2 separate regions of the Homo sapiens genome follow, and region 2 is linked to region 1. Evidence: fine-mapped expression QTL. A gene starts in region 1. The other region holds a variant in brackets. All regions are shown on one strand. Distances are between the middles of the regions.

Region 1 (5,369 bases):
TTCTTCATGGAAATCTTGGAGTCCCCACTGAGGTTAACGACCCACCATCAGAGACTGATCCGTAGATTGCACTCACTGCTCCAAACACACACAAAAATGAGTTTGTCTCTGGTGATATGACACATTAAAAAAAAAAAACTGTTGAATTTAAGGGTAACATTTTGAACAGTGTAGCAAAGTGTAGAAAACATTGGTTGTGAACTCAGACTAATTCACCGGGGCATCCATTTTTTTTCCTCACAAACACTGAGTACCCCTATGTGGTAGACAGGGGGGACCAGGCAGGGACCTGGGGCCACAGAGGTGGTTCCTTCCACCCATCCCTGAAGATGCTCCTGCACAGTGGGGCATCTGACAGCGACTCATCACAGAGCGGTGTAGGGAGGGCCAAGGAGAAGCCCACGGGAATTTCTGGACAGAGAGACCCTACTGAGCCCCAGTATGTCCTTGGGCTACTTATCTAATCAATAGTGAAGTAATATTGAGCTAACTATTCAAGCTGATCAATAGAAAAAAGAGTTACAGATACTGCAGTTCCACAAACACTCGGAGTGCTGTGCTCCAAAGGCCAGGTGGCCCACGCTGTTCCTGGTGCCCAAACGCAGCCTCCCAAGGCATCAGTGAGGATGGGCTGGCCAGGAGCCAATCCCTAACAGAGAAGTTCCCCCTACACATCCTTTCTCTGAGATAAGCAATTAATTTAATCCAAGACTTAATGAAAGCCAGGAGAAGGGATGGGGCAGATTCATACACTGGCTTTCAGGCTGTCCCGTGCATCTTCACCTCTCTCCAGGGACCACGAGGGTTTTTTTTTTTTTTTTTTTTTTGACAGGGTTTTGCTCTTATTGCCCAAGCTGGAGTGCAATGGCGCAATCTCAGCTCACTGCAACCTCTGCCTCCCAGGTGCAAGCGATTCTCCTGTCTCAGCCTCCTGAGTAGCTGGGATTACAGGTATGCACCACCACGCCTGGCTAATTTTGTATTTTTAGTAGAGACGGGGTTTTTATGTTGGTCAGGCTAGTCTCGAACTCCCGACCTCTGGTGATCCGCCCGCCTCGGCCTCCCAAAGTGCTGGGATTACAGGCGTGAGCCACCGCGCCCGAGGCCTTTTGATCCATCTGCTATAAATCCCCTTCCCACAGATGTCCCGATTGGGCACCAACACCTCTGAGGAGGGTAAGTTACTGCCAAGCCCGACCGCAGTCGCATCCCGTTTGAAAGGGTGGGCTCCGCACTGCCAGCTTCACACCCACGGGCCTTCTGCAAATATCAACAAACGGCTCCATTTGTGGAGCACTCTCCGATCCCCCATCCACCCCCCTACACTTCCCCATTCACAGCTCGATCTGATTCCCCATCTCTCCTGATTTTACTTGTTGAATGCTTACAAAGGATCCTTGCCTTTCCACAAAGACACTGGCTAGCCAGGCGGTGATAACCTCACTCACTACAGAGCCCCCTCGCAATCGCTGAACTCACAGCCGAAGCGGGAAAATATGGCTCCACGTCCTGCACCGTGAATCCTTTACCATCCACAGGTACAATTTAAAAGGCAGCTGCGGCTGCAAAGCAGGCAACCTACCCTAAGCAAATCCATTCTCTCTCTCTCTGTGTGTGTGTGTGTGACAAACCCAGCTTATTTAAAAGATCAGGACATAGGCAAGTTCACCAGCAAAAGCAACGTCGTGGGTCTACACCACACGGTCCTAACCTGCGCATCCAGGAATGTTAACCTGCGCTCGGGCGGCCCCGTGGCCAGGCCCGGGACTCCCGGAGGCGTCAGGCTGCAGGTGGCTGCCAAGAGGAGCCAGCCCCGTCTCCGGGAAAGGCCGCGAAGTTGCGGCCGCCTCCTTACCTGGAGACTAGCCGGCTCAGGACCGCCCGGGAAGGGGGATCCCGGGAGCTTGAATCTCGGCTGGAATCCAGCGGCGGGAGTGCGGGGGCCGTGCGGGAGAGGGCTGGAAGGGCGGGGGCGAGGTGGAGGCGGGCTCCGCGGGAGAGTGCGGGGCTGCGGGGGGCGAGGGCTTGGAGACAGAGCCGGGGGTTCGCAGCGGGCGTGAGACGGCGCCAGCTCTGGGAGAAGGGGGCTATGGGGCGGGCGCCGGGGCTGGGACACCGGGCGCACGGGGGGAGTGGCAGGAAAGAGGGCGCAAGTCCTAGGCTCAGGGGCGAGCGCGGGGATAAAGGAGGAGGCTTAGTCGCGGGATTCGGACCCGACGCTTCGAAGCGCCCCCAGCCTTCCCGCCCCTCTCCCACTGGCGAGTTAGGGGGACCCCCTCAGTCTCCCAACCTCGGACCCTGGACGCCCACCCGCCTAGAACCTCTGCGCTGCTCGGCCCCAACGGCAACCGCCCCGGCCCAGGCCCGCGCCGCACTCACCGCCCATGGTCCCAGGCCGGCCCCAGCTCCGTCGCTGCGCGCCCGGCTCGGCGCTCGCCGCCAGCTCCTCCCGGCGCGAGGGGAGGCGAGGGCGGCGCGCACCCGCCACCGGGGAGCTCGCGGGGCCCGGCAGCGCCCCCTGCCGACCCCGCCGCGCCCCGTCTCAGTTCGGCCGGCCCTGCACCAGGAGCCCTGGAGCTCCGCCCCGGAGGCGGTGTTGCGGTGCGGCTGGGCGGGGGCGACCGCGCGGGGTTGCTGAGAGGACACTGCCTCTGGGAGGCCCAGCACAGCCCGGAGAGACTGGTCAGTCTGCAGAGCCCTCGGCGTGCAAAGCCACGGGCACGGACAAGCCGAGCGCGCAGGGACCACGACCACAGACGCGCAGGGCTCTCGCGTGCCTCACAACTCCTGACCTGCGATCAGGGACTGCGCGGAGGCGCGCCAAGGCCCAGGAACACAGCCCTGGCCGGCCCGGGCCCTAGTGTGGGTGCTTTGGGGCCATGTGCCTGCCCTGGCGCCGCTGATGCTATCGCCGGGTGGGCGCGCGCGTCTGGGGTGCGCCTGCTGCCACGTAGACCCAAACTGTCACCCCCCACCCCCCACCCCTTTCGGCCTATCCCACACTCCTCTTCCGGCTCAGAACACATCCGGCCTTGTGTTGCTCTAGTCCTCGCTGCTGCTCCGTCTCCAACGGTCTGCAGAGACCCGGGGAGGTCGTGGCCCCGCGCAGTCGCCCTTCCCACCTGCTCCCGGCCCGCGGCTTCCTTGGAGCCGCTGCTGAAGATCCTCAGAGCACTTGAGGGCTGCCTGTAACGCCCCGTTAGACATCTGATAGGCGAACGGTTGTATTTGGTTTGATCAGTATTTGTGGGTCATTTATTGCAAATGTTAGGTTCCAGCTGGTGGAGATTTCCACCAGATTTCTCTGTGGGAGATGAAACGACCAACAGCGATTATCAGAGAGGTCTTTGCTGTCAGCTCGAGGTCTACAGCAACCCTGTGTGTCCTAGCACAACTAGCCTCAGGCAAAATAGATACGGATTCGAATTTGCTACTATATACCTTTGAGGTGCACCTTTGGGAGGATCTCATCCCTTGACTTCTGCTTTCTCTCCTTGATTGATGGCTCTCAAATCCACACACTTGGCTCAGATATGTTAGCCATATTTCCCCCTACCCTCCGGTTTTTTTCTTAGAACTTTCCTCCTCAAGTTACCACGTCTGGCACTAAATTTTACCTCTTCCAAGCTCCCAACTCCATTTATCCCCGTGGTCTCGCCATTCTCTCAGCCACCTGTCATGCCTTCTTCATCAGGTGCCTTAATGGCTCGTCAGTACCGGACTTTGCTGCCTGTCCGCCTCTGGTATTCCCCCGATGCAGCGCTATCCCGGGCCTTTTTTCTGCCCTGAATACTGACAGCCTCTCCCAATCCATGAGCACAAAATCTTTTCACTGTCCCCTTTGGCATCACCCCCAACTCTCCCACCTGGCCCCCACAGAAGCCCACCGCAGCCCGCCCAACAATGTCTCCTCTGCCCCTTCTGATTGTCCTCTCACGGATTGCAGGCTCTACTGCTTAGCTCACACTGTCACCCTCTTCTCTACATGGGTTAGTCAAGGTGCTTTCTGCTGTAAAAGACAACCCAATTCACACTAACTTAAATCACAAAGGGTTGATCCGCTGTGTACATGAAGAGCCTGTCTGCTTCAGGCCTGGCTTTAGTCCCAGGGTCTCAGGGACTCCCCGTCTCAGTTTTGCTGTCTTCCACATGAACTACGCTTTCATGCGCACATGAGACCCTGGCAGATCCAGGCTCACAGCCTCACAGCTCTAGTTCTAGCAGAAAATCAGCTTCTCTGCCAGCCATTGCAACTAGCCTTGGACCTGGCTTTGTTTGCAGGATTGGGCCACATGTCCATGCTGTGCTCTCAGCCTCTGTGACTCCATGGCAGGTGGGTTCACTCGTGGACACACTATCACCCTCAGCAGGGAGCATGTAGGCACTCTTGGATCCCTTCTCTGTCACAAGGGGACTAAAGGTAACTCAGGGCACCATCTCTAGCCATTTCTCTGCAAAATTTGCCACACCAGCGCTTTGCTTGACAGCGCAGGGCATACTGTGGGGGCAGAGTCTCAGCCTGGAGATAGGACACAGGCCCTTTCTGCTTTCAGCTTCCTCCTTAACCTATCTGAGATCTGTGTCTTTGTACCACCCCCTTCCCTAGGTCCACACTTGGTATAGGGATAGCCTCAGGCCCTCATGGAATCAGGCATCATACACTCCCTAGACTCACATCCTGTTTCTTTACCTCACCTTCCCGATTCCCTGAGGATGTCTATGCTACCTTCCATTCTAGAGGAGGCATCTCCTCCCCCTGTGGACTCTGGGTTCTGAGTGGTACCCACCGAGCCTTAATGGAGAAAGGGGCTATAGGGAAGAAAAAAGAAAAGCTTCCTACAGGGAAAATAGATATGAGGAAGCATCTCAAGACCATTACTCCCACTAAATCTCTTTCCTCCGTGGTTGCTGAAGAGGCAGGATGGCAGCCTGACACAGCTGGGGACCATCTGGCCAGCACCTGGGGAGACTGTGCCAGAGACTGCAGCTGACAGAGGAAAGCAGAGTGGTGAGATAGGCAGGTTTCTTTCTTTCTTTCTTTTTTGTTTACCTTCACAACAGAATGGATGTCATAGGCAGGTTTCTGCTGTGCCTGAATCCCACATACCACTGGATTTTTCAAGTACGTGTTCCAGTAAATACCCCATTTTCCCCCAAGCAAATTAGAATTGGCTTTCTCTGTCACTTGCAACCAAGAGAGTCTTGACTAGTATAAGCCTCTAGCATAGGACCTCACACATTAGTTCCTGTAAAATAGCAACTATCATCACCGTTATTCATATGATAAATGAGCAAGCCATCCTCTTTGGTAACTGTAAACTGTAGAAATGAAAAGTGCATGCAGTATGCTCAATAACTTTTGTCTCCCC
Region 2 (5,369 bases), 50 kb before region 1:
TGATGTAAAGTACATGGGAGAATGTGCGCAGGTTCTGTGTAAATACAACACCATTTTACATAAGGGACTTGAGCATCTCAGATTCTGGTATCCAAGGAGGATCCTGGAACCAATCCTCTATGGATGACTGTATTAAAACTAAAGGCTAGTGTGGATGAGACTAGTGTACTAGTCGTACACTAAAATCTATTCTCTTCTTAAGAACTTGGTTAGATCCTATTTCTGAGGTCCTGAAATGAGGTAAAGCCGCATTCGCCAACAGAACGGAAAGATGTATGCCACTTCTGGGTTCAGGCTTTCTGATCATGTGTATGCCCGGTTCACATTATCTTCCTTCCTTCCAGCCATTATTTAGGCATGGCAGCAACCAGGGTTCAACCATGTAGCCATCCCCAGGGGATGGTAGAAACAACAACCTGGAAGAAACCTGGGGCCCTGAATGACCAGGTGGAGCTGACTAGCACAATCTGGAACACACATTTCAGACCTTCACATGAGGAAGAGCTAAACTTCCTTGTTATTTAAGGTAATGCATTCATGAGTCCCTGTGCTACAAAATAAACTTACAAAATAGGTGTACCCTGACTAATGCAGACATAATTATATCCATGAAAATAAATTTTTCTTTAGGAAAAACTCATATTATTGTGGGCTCATTGAAAATCTGCTTTCATAATGAAAACTGAAATAATCAAAAGTGTTACTATCTTAAGCCTTCAAGTCATTCACTTTGGAGTCCTTATCTTCACTTTTATATGCATTATTCACATCTATTTATGCCACAAAGTTTGAGGCTGAACCCCAAGGCTAATCCACACACCCATGAGAACATTTATTGTTTATTTAAAATCTCAGCAATGACTGAGTTCTGCACAGAATGTTAAGGCAAGCAGAAGAGGCAGACGACCAGTGACACTGTTACCAGAAAACACAATCCAAAAGAGCATACATAGCTGGAAACTGGAATCACATTAGATTTTTAAAGTTCATGCCAATTAAAGAATTTATCATCTTACATATTAATAACATGAGATTATGAAAAGATAAGCCCAGTGTACTTTTCTTTGTTTTTAGCTTTCTGGACCTTTTGGTCTTACTTGATGTAATGCATTGCCCTGCTTTCCTTAGCTCTCATAACATTGCTCTCCTGACTTTTCCCCATTTGCAACATCCCTGGCCCCTTTTGAAATCCTTTTTCTCTCTGAGTACCACATGCTGGTGCTTCCCAGGACTCTGGTTTTGGCCCATCCCTCACTCCTCAGGTTCTGTCTGTAATATAAGCCCACAGCTTCAAATGCCATCAACATGCTGAAGATTCTCAACTAAACCTCTTTTTCCCAGCAAGCCAGTGCCCCTGAGCTGCAAAATTATACAGACTAGGCCAGGCAGGGTGGCTCACACCTGTAATCCCAGCACTTTGGGAGGCTGAGGTGGGCTGATCATGAGGTCAAGAGATCAAGACCATCCTGGCCAACATGGTGAAACCCCATCTCTACTAAAAAATAAAAAAAAAAAAAAATACAAAAATTAGCTGGGCATGGTGGCGCGTGCCTGTAGTCCCAGCTACTCGGGAGGCTGAGGCAGGAGAATCGCTTGAACCTGGGAGGCAGAGGTTGCAACGAGCCAAGTTCATGCCATTGCACTCCAGCCTAGTGACAGAGCGAGACTCTGTCTCAAAAAAAAAAAATTATACAGCCTATTACTGACTAGAAACTGTCTCTTGAATGTTTCATGATAGCTCAAATGTAGCACCAATGCCTGTACTAACTTCCCCCCATACCTCCCTTCTGTGTTCTCTAATTCCAGGGAGGGGTACCACCACCAGCCAGACACCCAGTCAGAAACCTGGGCCCCATCGGGCCTGCCTTTCATACCCCTGTCCAACCTGCCACCAAGTCCTATTGATCCCACCTTGTAACCTTCTCTAAGACCCACTCACTCTCTCCATCTCTGCTGCCACTTCTGAGTTTCAGCTGCCATCATTTATTCATTCAACAAACATTTAATCACACCCCACCACTCATATGTCAGTCACTGTCCTAAGCACTTGGAATGCAGCAGCAGTGAACAAAAACAAATAAAAATCTCTGCCCTTAGGGAGGTTATATTCTAGCCTGGGGAAGCAGACAATACACAATGAACACTCTGTGTGTGTGTGTGTGTGTGTGTGTGTGTGTTTGTCTGGGTTAGAAAGTAACAGATGCTGTGGCAAAGAGAAGAGCAGGCTAAGGGGGCTGTGGGAGACCAGGGTGGAAGGAGGAGCACCTTGTCATTTTAACTGGAGTGTTCTGAGTAGGTTTTATTGAGAAGGTGACATTTGAGCAAAGACTTAAAGGAGGTAAGAGGACTGGCCATAAAGCTTTCTGTGGGAAGAGCCTTCTAGAGACAGAAACCAGTTTGTGCAAAGGCCCTGAGGCAGCATACAGTGCCTGAATGTGGAAGGAAGAGCTAGGAGCATTGTG[G/A]CTGAAGCGCAGTGAGTGAGCACGAGGAGAGTGGAGGGCAAGGTCAGGCGGGTTAGGGGTGGAGGAAGGGCACTCAGGCCTTGTGGGGCACTTTAAGGATGTGGATTCTGATTCTGAGTGAAGTCTCTCCTCTGGATCACTACCCTAATAATAACACCACTAGCTGCCACCAGCTTCCAATCCATCTTCCACACTATGGCTGTCAGAGACCTTCATCTTTTCATCCCTTTCACTGCCCGGCTCTCTCACTGCCTTCATGCCTGGACATACTCCCTTGCTGGGTATCGAAGCCTCAGATAACCTAGTTCCTACCCAGTTTTCCACTCCACGCTTGAGCCTGTGAAACTAACTTTCTGCTCAAGCCTGTGAAACTAACTTTGAGGGCCCCAATGTGCCAAGCTGTCCACCACCTCACACTGCATGGGTTGGTCTCACCACCCAAGGGGCCATTCAGCACCAGCTTCTGCCTGACTTGCTCCTGCACACCTTTCTGGTCCCTTTCTCTGTGTGGCCTTCCCTGATCTGCCACCCCATGTCCCCTCCCTGCCCCAGGTGGGGTCAGGCTGCCCCTCTTCTGGCTCATGCCCCCAAATATGGCACCCAAACTACTTCCATTTCTACTTCTTGCTCTTCTTCCATTTCTTCCTCTTCTTTCTCTAATGCTGCCACCACTGCTGCCACCTGTGCCAGCTATTCACTGAGGGCTGCCGTGTCCTGGGCACCGGGCCTGTCTCTGTAAATGTGCTGAGCTCCCTGAGGGCAGAGGCAGCCCCAACAAGCGGCCTTTCTTCTTCGACTCCTCAGAAGCCTACTCCCTCCATCACTGCTCCAGCCCAGCCATACCCTGGTCTTATTGTGGCTCACACCTGCCCAGTTCTTTCAGCCTCGGGCCCCCTGCACTTGCTGCTTACTCCATAGGGAACGCTCTGTCCCCGGACCATCACAGGGCTGGCCCCTTCACTTCATGTAGGTGCCTGCTTGTGTACTGCCTTCTGGTACCTGGCACATGATAGAAGCATAAAACTAAAATTTGTGCAATAAATGCTGATCAAAGTGGATGTTTTCTCCTCCTTGGATGTAGAAAAGCATATTTAATTCATATTTATGAATGCAAAAAAGCATTTACTAAATATGGCATATAAATAACTAATAACCTTAATGCTGGCTAAATGTAATACTATGAGGGTTAAAATAGCACCTTCCTTATAAAGCACATGGCATTCACAAAGAGGCAGCTTCTACTACAAAGGCTTTGAGAGTCACAGGGTGTGGCATCGTGGATGGAAACCCTGGGGCAACAAACTTGTGGACCGCCAGCTAGTGCTTGGTTCAGCTCACTGCACCCTGCCTGCTGGCCACAGTATTCCGTTTCACTAGACTAGAATAATGGGCATGCTCCAGGGCACACCACCTTTTAGGAGATCACAACATTAGTAATTTTTAAAGCTGAAGTAGCACCTGGGAAGACAGCAGGTATTGCTCGTGACCCAGATCCCACAGTCCTGGGGGAGTCAGCAGCCTAGAGAGGGTCCCCTTCACCGGGGTTCCTGCTCACTCTTACTCTTAAGTACCTGTTTATAATGATGAGTCAACTATTACTGTTTTTAAAGATTAAATTAATTAAATGACATTAAGTAACTATGCATACTCCACCCTCTTCACACAAAGGATTTAAAGTGGCTTCTAAAAATACAGAATGTTCAATAAAATAAAACTAGGCAAAGGAAAATGAGGGCAGAGGCAGCCAGGCCAACTGGTCCCTAGGAACTGAACCTCTCAAATGGGAGCGCCAAAAATGGCCCCATTAGAGGGTCCTGGCATCACTGTGACAGGGGCCCTGCAAGACGAGCTACAAAGTGTCACTTTTAAAGAACAGCCCTGGCTGTAGTGAGGTAATCCATGGCTCCACCAGGCTCGCCCTCCCGGGGCAGGCTGGCATCCCAGAAGCATTCCATCAAAATAACGTCTTCCCCACTGAGCACTTCATCTCCTGACCTCATTCACTAAACTCTGCTAGAATGTTATGTGCCTCCAGACACATTTGCTGAGGTCTAGCCCAATATTTTATTGCTAACTATGCCTCTAATTTTAGAGCCATGCCATTTCCATACAATTTCCACACTCTGTTCAATTATTTTTCATCCTAAGGGCTTTCAACCAAGAACAGGCTGCCTCTACTCCAGTGAAAAATTAGAAGGGTGAAATAATTCTTACATTTATATGGCTCTGCAATTGCTAACGTGCATTTGTCTGTGTCATCTCACTTACTCTTTGCCCCAACTTTGCATGGGGAGCCTTGTGATCCCCGTTTCAGAGGTAGGAGGCTGAGGCTCAGAGGACACTAAGGGGCTTGCCCGCTGCTCTGAATGGAGCAGGTGAGCTGGGGCGGAGGACTCTTAACTCAGTGCTCACTGTACTGTGTCCCAACTGTTTATTAAAGTGAAAAACATCAGGGTGGGAGGGTGAGCCTCAGACTGGCCTGGGCTCAGTATATCTGCTGTGTTGCTTCAAACAGGTGTCCCCGCCTCTGTGGGCCTCCATCTTTTCAACTGTATAATGGCACTCACATGTAGGACTGCTCTGAGCTCAGGCTCCTGCAAACAGTATGGTTCACCAAGTGTAGGTCCTGTCATTCTCTATCCTACAGGATATAACAGACACTTGAAAATGACTTTTAGAAAAAGTGCAATTTACCTGTTAGCCACCAGAGTGCAGTCAATTTCTGGTCGCTTTGTTTTGGGAATGACATACAGTGGGTACCTGTCTCCGTGGCGAATGAACACATGCACTGAGACCAGCTTAAAATGATGCGGGGCATGACCTGCGCGAGAGAAGCACATTGTCTGGTTATCACTCAATAGGTGTCAATCCTTTTAGAAGGGGGCCAAGGGGATGACCTGGCCACAT

The links. PIP is the estimated chance that this variant, and not a neighbour inherited with it, causes the effect.
Region 2: its variant is fine-mapped to the expression of PXYLP1 in whole blood (TOPMed, PIP 0.99).

The regions. Positions count from the first base shown.
Region 1 is chr3:141,228,922-141,234,290 of GRCh38, reverse strand. It overlaps PXYLP1 (2-phosphoxylose phosphatase 1), which reads right to left and starts at 2,466. Exons shown (of 6, transcript NM_001037172.3): 1 at 2,380-2,466. RefSeq lists a silencer at 2,348-2,727.
Region 2 is chr3:141,279,292-141,284,660 of GRCh38, reverse strand. It overlaps PXYLP1 (2-phosphoxylose phosphatase 1), which reads right to left. Exons shown (of 6, transcript NM_001037172.3): 4 at 5,157-5,283. Among named protein-coding and RNA genes, the nearest start is that of PXYLP1, 50 kb to the right of the region's middle. The variant G/A (reference allele first, on the strand shown) is at 2,463.